3 separate regions of the Homo sapiens genome follow, and all the other regions are reported to be linked to region 2. The links are microRNA targets in miRTarBase. Many come from high-throughput screens and were not tested one by one. Region 2 holds a microRNA gene; each other region holds the end of a gene's coding sequence.
The links. The annotated mature microRNA hsa-miR-3689d reads GGGAGGUGUGAUCUCACACUCG and lies in region 2 at 2,275-2,296, shown strand. An mRNA with a match to its seed (bases 2 to 7 or 8) in the 3' UTR can be bound and repressed. Matches are read on the target gene's strand: a 7mer-m8 pairs with bases 2 to 8, a 7mer-A1 pairs with bases 2 to 7 and ends in A, and an 8mer does both.

Region 1 (3,171 bases), not on the chromosome of region 2:
CTATTCTTCCCTAAAATAGGAAATAATGAACTTCCTCGATGCCTTTCTATTCTCTCAGCCAGTTTGGTTAAAGTGACTTTGGGCTCAGTTTGTACAACCACTATGAATTTTTAAATAGAATGTAGCAAAAGCACCTAACCTTAGGTGTATATTATAACCTTGAAGTAGCCTTTTCTCACTATCAAACTACAGGCAGAGGAAACATTTAATTTTGATAGTAATTAATCACTTTCTATTTCAGAGGAATTCTTCAGTTGGATAAAGTGGACGTCATACCTGTGACAGCTATCAACTTATATCCAGATGGTCCAGAGAAAAGAGCTGAAAACCTTGAAGATAAAACATGTATTTAAAACGCCATCTCATATCATGGACTCCGAAGTAGCCTGTTGCCTCCAAATTTGCCACTTGAATATAATTTTCTTTAAATCGTTAAGAATCAGTTTATACACTAGAGAAATTGCTAAACTCTAAGACTGCCTGAAAATTGACCTTTACAGTGCCAAGTTAAAGTTTACCTTATTCTCGGCCGGGTGCAGTGGCTCATGCCTGTAATCCCAGGACTTTGGGAGGCCAATGCGGGCGGATCACGAGGTCAGATCAAGACCATCCTGCCAACATGGTGAAACCCTGTCTCTACTAAAAAAAATAAAAAAATTAGCTGGGTGTGGCGGTGCACGCCTGTAGTCCCAGCTACTTGGGAGGCTGAGGCAGGAGAATTGCTTGAACCCGGGAGGCGGAGGCTGCAGTGAGCCAAGATCACGCCACTGCACTCCAGCCTGGGTGACAGAGCGAGACTCTGTTTCAAAAAAAAAAAAGTTGACCTTATTCTCTAAAAGGGCTGGCTATTCATATGATGAATTGTTAAGGAAAACTTAAAGTGGAAGAGAACACATGTGAAGAGACTTTGAAATTATCAAAAGAAAAAAAAAAGACCAGACAAAATCTCATGTGCCAATAACTTTTCAAGGTGCCTTTGTTAAGGAAATTATATCCACTTAATTACTATAATATATAAGACTTTATGAAAAGCACTTTATAAAATTCTAATTTAAAAGGTCAAGAACTTAACACTTATTTTTTTATTCAGTACAGTGTGCCTTTATATTAAGTATGTGACTCAGTATAAAATCACTGAAGTGTATCATGATTTGATTGTATCCTGTACCAAGACTACTTACCTTGAATGCTCCAAGATTTAAAAGTAGTATGACATGTTCTCACTCTAAAATAAACTTTTTTTTTTTTTTTTTGAGGAAAAAAGTATAGCTGTTTTGGTTACACTGATATAAAACCTTTGCCCAGGTAAGAATGGCTGAGATGCAGGAGTAGGTATACTTTCATTTACACTGGCTGAAACCATGGCTCAAATTGAATGAGTCCATTGATGTCATGAATTAGACTGTGCCCTTGGTCTTGTGGTTCTAGATATAGTGCTGTTTACCCTAAAAGTGTTTTATTACCTTTTTTAACCATCACTCATATTGACATATTAATATTTTACAATGTGAACGAGTACATATAACTCATCTCTATGTGATACTTTTTTGAGATGGAGTCTGGCTCTGTCGCCTAGGCTGGAGTGCAGTGGCGCAATCTCGGCTCACTGCAAGCTCCGTCTCCCGAGTTCATGCCATTCTCCTGCCTCAGCCTCCCGAGTAGCTGGGACTACAGGCGCCCGCTACTATGCCCGGCTAATTTTTTGTATTTTTAGTAGAGATGGGGTTTCACCATGTTAGCCAGGATGGTCTCGATCTCCTGACCTTGTGATCTGCCTGCCTTGGCCTCCCAAAGTGCTGGGATTACAGGCATGAGCCACCGCGCCTGGCCCTCTATGTGATACTTTCTGTTGTTTCATTAAAAAATATTTTTACTGGCCGGGCACAGTGGCTCATGCCTGTAATCCCAGCACTTTGGGAGGCCGAGGTGGGCAGATCACGAGGTCAGGAGATCGAGACCATCCTGGCCAACACGGTGAAACCTCGTCTCTACTAAAAAAAAAAAAAATACAAAAAATTAGCCGGGCGTGGTGGGGGGCACCTGTAGGCCCAGCTACTCGGGAGGCTGAGGCAGGAGAATTGGTGTGAACCCGGGAGACAGAGCTTGCAGTGAGCCGAGATCACACCACTGCACTCCAGCCTGGGCGACAGAGCAAGGCTCTGTCTCAAAAAAAAAAAAAAAAATATATATATATATATATACTGCAACCCATCATTTTGAAAACACTATCCAAGAAAGTAATGGTTGTTTTTTGTTTGTTTGTTTTTTTGAGATGGAGTTTCACTCGTGTTGCCTAGGCTGGAGTACAATGGTGTGATCTTAGCTCACTGCAACCTCCACCTCCCAAGTTCAAGCAATTCTGCCTCAGCCTCCTGAGTAGCTGGGATTACAGACTCCCACCACCATGCCCGGCTAATTTTTGTATTTTTAGTAGAGATGGGGTTTCACTGTGTTGGGCAGGCTGGTCTCAAACTCCTGACCTCAGGTAATCCACCCACCTAGACCTCCCAAAATGCTGGAATTACAGGCGTGAGCCACCATGCCCGGCCATGGTTGGTTTTTTTGAGACCACTTTATATTTAGGCCAAATAGGTATGTGTGTGATGGGGGTGGAGAGGATGACAAGTAGAATGAAGGAGTGATGTTTCACTTTGCCAGACTTTAAATTAATTACATTGCATGGAGCTCTATTATGCAATACTCTCTCCATACTGCTGAAAAAAATAATCTGCAACTTACAATTTGATCCTTGAGTTACCAACCAGTAACACTTGTTCTTTACACCCTTTCTCATTCCCTAAGTCATTAGAAAGCACCAGTTCTAACTCCAAATGATGACATGGTCTTATTTTATCTATTAACCATAAGCTTACAGATTCTAGTGAAGAAAAAACTTTAGGAGGCTACATGGTCTATTGGAGAGTGTAGGCTCTGCAGTCAGAAGATCCCTACCCAGGCTTCTGTCTTTCTCAGTAAGACTTGGGACCACAGCAAGGTCCGCAATCTCCTGAGGCTCTGTTTTCTATGGTTGGGATAACATGGTAAGTTATTTTCTTCTAAGTAGTCACACATGGAAATCTTATCTAAAATTTTATACCATTAACTTTTATTTCACTTATTAACTCATACCATTAATACTTTACTTTAGCTATGTTTGGTATGCATGAGTTA
Region 2 (3,155 bases):
ACACCTCCAGCTTCATCTAAAGCACACACATGCTGCCTGTGCACACCTCCAACTCCATCTAAAGCACACACAATGCTGCCTGTGCACACCTCCAACTCCATCTAAAGCACACACAATGCTACCTGTGCACACCTGCAACTCCATCTAAAGTACACACAATGCTACCTGTGCACACCTCCAACTTCATCTAAAGCACACACAATGCTGCCTGTGCACACCTCCAACTCCATCTAAAGTACACACAATGCTACCTGTGCATACCTGTAACTCCATCTAAAGCACACACAATGCTACCTGTGCACACCTCCAACTTCATCTAAAGCACACACAATGCTACCTGTGCACACCTTCAACTCCATGTAAAGCACACACAATGCTACCTGTGCATACCTCCAACTCCATGTAAAGCACACACAATGCTACCTGTGCACACCTCCAACTCCATGTAAAGCACACACAATGCTACCTGTGCACACCTCCAACTCCATGTAAAGCACACACAATGCTGCCTGTGCACACCTCCAACTCCATCTAAAGCACACACGATGCTACCTGTGCACACCTCCATCTCCTTCTAAAGCACACACAATGCTACCTGTGCACACCTCCAACTCCATCTAAAGCACACACAATGCTGCCTGTGCACACCTCCAACTCCATCTAAAGCACACACAATGCTACCTGTGCACACCTCCAACTCCATTTAAAGCACACACAGTGCTTTGTGCGCACACCTCCAACTCCATCTAAAGCACACACCATGCTACCTGTGCACACCTCCAACTCCATCTAAAGCACACACAATGCTTTGTGCACACCTCCAACTCCATTTAAAGCACACACAGTGCTTTGTGCGCACACCTCCAACTCCATCTAAAGCACACACAATGCTACCTGTGCACACCTCCATCTCCATCTAAAGTACACACAATGCTACCTGTGCACACCTCCATCTAAAGCACACATAATGCTACCTGTGCACACCTGTAACTCCATCTAAAGCACACACAATGCTACCTGTGTACACCTCCAGCTCCATCTAAAGCACACACGATGCTACCTGTGCTCACCTCCAACTCCATCTAAAGCACACACAATGCTACCTGTGCACACCTCCAACTCCATCCAAAGCACACACAATGCTACCTGTGCACACCTGTAACTCTAAAGCATGCAGAACGTTGCATGTGCACACCTCTAACTTTATTCAGTGTGGTTTCCTTCCCTCTTCAGGACGTTTAAGTAGTTGACTTCATTCAGCTGCAGGCCCAGCCCGCTGTGGGCTCTGACGGAAGGCCCTTTCCTGCAGAAGTGCGGGTGTGTGGGGACGGGTGGGGCTACTGTCTCCATGCCGCTGAAGTGAAGTGAGCTCCAAGTGTAGCCGAGCAGAGAACCCTATGGGGTGGGGTGTGGGACCTCACACACTGCAGGTTCTACCACCACCTCCCCGCGGGTGGCTTGGCTTAGAAGGCCTAGAGGTGGACCTAGAATGCGTACTTTTAGGGGGCTCCCCGGATGACTTCAACAGGCAGCCAGGTGGGGGCCACTGATGGGCAGACACCAAGAAACACCAGGAACACTTCTGCTAAGCGCTGGCCTTGTCCCATTAAGAACCTGTGGCTCCCCTGGGAGGTGTGATCCCGTGCTCCCTGGGAGGTGTGATCCCGTGCTCCCTGGGAGGTGTATCCTGTGCTCCCTGGGAGGTATGATCCTGTGCTCCCTGGGAGGTGTATCCTGTGCTTCCTGGGAGGTGTGATATCGTGGTTCCTGGGAGGTGTGATCCTGTGCTTCCTGGAAGGTGTGATCCTGTGCTTCCTGGGAGGTGTGATATCGTGCTTCCTGGGACGTGTGATGCTGTGCTTCCTGGGAGGTGTGATCCCACACTCGCTGGGAGGTGTGATCCCGTGCTCCCTGGGAGGTCTGATCCCGTGCTTTCCTGGGAGGTGTGATCCCGTGCTCCCTGGGAGGTCTGATCCCATGCCTCCTGGGAGGTGTGATATCATGGTTCCTGGGAGGTATGATATCGTGGTTCCTGGGAGGTGTGATCCCGTGCTCCCTGGGAGGTCTGATCCCGTGCTTCCTGGGAGGTATGATATCATGGTTCCTGGGAGGTATGATATCGTGGTTCCTGGGAGGTGTGATCCCGTGCTTCCTGGGAGGTGTGATCCTGTGCTTCCTGGGAGGTGTGATCCCATGCTTCCTGGGAGGTGTGATCCTGTGCTTCCTGGGAGGTGTGATACCATGCTTCCTGGGAGGTGTGATCCCACGCTCACTGGGAGGTGTGATCTCACACTCGCTGGGAGGTGTGCTATCGTCTTCCCTGGGAGGTGTGATCCTGTTCTTCCTGAGCGGTGTGATCCTGTGCTCCCTGGGGGGTCTGATCCTGTGCTTCCTGGGAGGTGTGATATCATGGTTCCTGGGAGGTGTGATCCCGTGCTTCCTGGGAGGTGTGATATTGTGGTTCCTGGGAGGTGTGATCCCGTGCTCCCTGGGAGGTGTGATCCCGTGCTCCCTGGGAGGTGTGATCCCGTGCTCCCTGGGAGGTGTGATCCCGTGCTCCCTGGGAGGTGTGATCCCGTGCTCCCTGTGAGGTCTGATCCTGTGCTTCCTGGGAGGTGTGATATCGTGGTTCCTGGGAGGTGTGATATCGTGGTTCCTGGGAGGTGTGATCCCGTGCTTCCTGGGAGGTGTGATCCTGTGCTTCCTGGAAGGTGTGATATCGTGGTTCCTGGGAGGTGTGATATCGTGGTTCCTGGGAGGTGTGATATCGTGGTTCCTGGGAGGTGTGATATCGTGGTTCCTGGGAGGTGTGATCTGGTGCTCCCTGGGAGGTGTGATCCCATGCTTCCTGGGAGGTGTGATCCCGTGCTTCCTGGGAGGTGTGATCCTGTGCTTCCTGGGAGGTGTGATACCATGCTTCCTGGGAGGTGTGATCCCACGCTCACTGGGAGGTGTGATCTCACACTCGCTGGGAGGTGTGCTATCGTCTTCCCCGGGAGGTGTGATCCTGTTCTTCCTGAGAGGTGTGATCCTGTGCTCCCTGGGGGGTCTGATCCTGTGCTCCCTGGGAGGTGTGATATCATGGTTCCTGGGAGGTGTGATCCTGTGCTTCCTGGGAGGTGTGATATCGTGGTTCCTGGGAGGTGTGATCCCGT
Region 3 (3,171 bases), not on the chromosome of region 2:
TTTGAGACGGAGTCCCGCTCTGTCGCCCAGGCTGGAGTGCAGTGGCGCAATCTCGGCTCACTGCAAGCTCCACCTCCCGGGTTCACGCCATTCTCCTGCCTCAGCCTCCTGAGTAGCTGGGACTACAGGCGCCCGCCACCACGCCTGGCTAATTTTTTGTATTTTTAGTAGAGACGGGGTTTCACCGTGTTAACCAGGATGGTCTCGATCTCCTGACCTCGTGATCCGCCCGCCTCGGCCTCCCAAAGTGCTGGGATTACAGGCGTGAGCCACCGCGCCTGGCCCTAAAGGTAATTTTAAAAGTCCTCAAAATGTTTTAATTGTAGCATTGCGAAAATAAATATCTAGCTTTCCAAGTTATTATGCACATATACCATCTGTGTCAGTCTGTTCTCATGCTGCTAATAAAGTCATACCCAAGACTGGGTAATTTATAAAGGAAAGAGGTTTAATTGACTCACAGTTCTGCATGACTGAGGAGGCCTCAAGAAACTTACAATCATGGCGGAAGGCAACTTTTCACAGGGCAGCAGGAGAGAAGAATGAGAGTGAAGCAGGGAAAAGCTCCTTATAAAATCATCAGGTCTCATAAGAACTCAGTATCACGAGAACCGCATGAGGGTAACCGCCCCCACGATTCAATTACCTCCCACTGGGTCCTTCCCACAACACGTCGGGATTATGGGAACTACAATTCAAGATGAGATCTGGCTGGGGACATAGCCAAACCACGTCACCATCGTTCCCTAAATGTAAATGAGTAAGAGCCACTTTACTTTTTAAATGAAATAATATGCTTTATTTTAACCGTTCTGGAACAAAAGCAAATGAAAATCGACTCAGAATATCAACAGACATTCCTTTATAGATTCTCAAAGCACAAAGAAATTTGTATGATTTTATAGTACTAACCGCTGCATTTTACAGATGAAACTAATTCCCTGAAGGGTGTGGTGATTGCCAATATGACTTAGCAAATCAGTGGCAGAGCCAGGTGTAGAGCCCAAGTCTCTTGTCTTCTACCAGGTATTTATTCGTTTCACTACCCTACTATCCCTATCTGTGGTTTAAGAATAATACCAGAGGAGATAAATTGTTTCACCCTTTCAAAACAATGTAAAAATTACCTTCTAATCGAGTATTTGGTATTTACTGCTCAATGATCAACTAGAAAAAATATATAATACTAGATGGGATCTAATATATTCTAAATTCTTTAACTGGTAACTTGTCAATTTAAATGTCTTTGAACTACGCTTAGAGTTGTAACATCAAATGCTATAGAAACAGGCTGTAAAAATCTAAATGTCTCAAAATGGAAGCAAAGACATACCTATATAATGATTCATTTATCCAAATGAAATGTAAAGTAAATCCTTACTGGAAATTTTGACTTGAAAATAATAGACCATACAGAATTCTTGGATAGCTCATAAAATTTCAATTCAAATTACTCACAAAAAGTCCCAATGCCCAGTGAATAACAGATGTTTCTTAAAAAGAGATCAATGAATGTATTTTTGGAATGATGTCAGAGATGAGCCTCTTTTATAATCATTTTTGATTAGACATATAGCTTCATTCACAAAAACACAAACAAGGTCAAAATTCACAGAAAGGATTACTGTGCCCTAAGGAAACATATTTTAGCTGCAGCTATAAATGTGGGTTTGCTTATCAAATTTATATATGAAGTTTTCTATCTTAATCATTGTATAACTAAAGCTTATGCTAGAACAATACCAGAGGGGATAAATTGTTTCACCCTTTCTAAACAATGTAGAAATTACCTTCTAGTCTAGTGTTTGGTACTTATTACTCACTGATCCACTAGGAAAAATATATAATACTAAGCAGGATCTAGTATTTTTTTCCACAATGATGGTGAAGCTAAATAATTAGAATAGAAAATTTGGAATACTTCATTTGGCATTTTATATCTTTACGTCAATTTGTTTATGACATGTTTGGTTTTAGGTTTATTATACAAAGAATGTAAAACAATTTCAATTAAAAATGCATACTACTTTCTTAATTTCTCTTAATTACTTATAAGTAGGCAGTTTAATAACGAAATAAACCTTTCAAGACAAATGGTGATCTCTGAAAAAGTCTTGGACTGATTTGAGGTAAAATCTATAGCGAAATATGACTGAGGTGTCACTAGATTAGACTGCTGTTAATTTTTATGTATCAGTGTGAAAACAAATGGATGAAGAGAACCACCTAATATGAATATTTACGTGAAACTAGAAGTGCCCTAGGATCTTTGAATAATTTTAAATTGCATTTAGCTAAGGAAGACTTATTTGAGGACAGTACTTTGTATGAATTACTTTATCAAAACTCAAGAATGGGCCAGGCACTGTGGCTCACACCTGTAATCCCAGCAACTTAGGGAGGCAGAGAAGGGCAGATCACGAGGCCAGGAGTTCGAGACCAGCCTGGCCAACATGGTGAAACCCCATCTCTACTAAAAATACAAAAACTAGCTGGGCATGGTGGTGCACACCTGTAGTCCCAGCTACTCAGAAGGCTGAGGCAGGAGAATCACTTGAACCTGGAGGTGAAGGTTGCAGTGAGCCCAGAGCACACCACTGCATTCCAGCCTGGGCAACAGACCAAGACTCTGTCTCAAAAAAAAAAACCCAAAAACTCAAGAATAATAACATTTACATTTCTGAACATAAAATAGTTTTTTAAAAAGTATGCCACTTATTCAATTTACAAATTATTACTTACAACAGAGTTTAACATAAGCATGATGACATATTTTTACTTAGCTTGAGAGTTAAGTATTATTACTTAAAACCAGGAAACATGCCTTTATTTTTGGAAGGAGATGGTTTAAAGTTCTTTATTTCTATTTCATGAGTTTTTCCCAGTTCCAGTTCATTTATCCAAGTTGTTTTTACATTACCATCAATGTCATCAATTTTACTTTCTTCAATATGCAGAATTCCATTCAACTTTGTATCTATGCAATCCTCAGCTTTCACTTCTCTGGCTGAATCTACTTCTTTTATAGTTCTAATTTCAAAAAGGTCTTTAGCTAAAATGCAATCTGAATTGTTAGCCAATCTATTTCCTCTATCAGTTTCAGCTAGGTCATTTTTTTCTTCATCTGTATCTTCAGGATCATAAAGTTCAGGTGTAAAATAGATAGATTCA

Region 1: the mRNA of GINM1 is a reported target of hsa-miR-3689d. The part of its 3' UTR that is shown has no 7-base or 8-base seed match.
Region 3: miRTarBase lists BRIP1 as a target of hsa-miR-3689d. Seed matches in the 3' UTR shown: 8mer at 2,562-2,569.

The regions. Positions count from the first base shown.
Region 1 is chr6:149,590,486-149,593,656 of GRCh38, forward strand. GINM1 (glycosylated integral membrane protein 1) reads left to right here. Exons shown (of 8, transcript NM_138785.5): 8 at 242-1,263. The coding sequence ends at 353. It also overlaps the pseudogene RPS18P9. Among named protein-coding and RNA genes, the nearest start is that of GINM1, 26 kb to the left of the region's middle.
Region 2 is chr9:134,849,473-134,852,627 of GRCh38, reverse strand. MIR3689D2 (microRNA 3689d-2) reads left to right here and starts at 2,272; the gene lies at 2,272-2,351. It overlaps MIR3689A (microRNA 3689a), which reads left to right and starts at 3,064; the gene lies at 3,064-3,141. MIR3689D1 (microRNA 3689d-1) reads left to right here and starts at 2,946; the gene lies at 2,946-3,019. It overlaps MIR3689B (microRNA 3689b), which reads left to right and starts at 2,356; the gene lies at 2,356-2,503. It also overlaps MIR3689E, MIR3689F and LOC101448202.
Region 3 is chr17:61,680,495-61,683,665 of GRCh38, forward strand. It overlaps BRIP1 (BRCA1 interacting DNA helicase 1), which reads right to left. Exons shown (of 20, transcript NM_032043.3): 20 at 1-3,171. The coding sequence ends at 2,802. Among named protein-coding and RNA genes, the nearest start is that of NACA2, 91 kb to the left of the region's middle.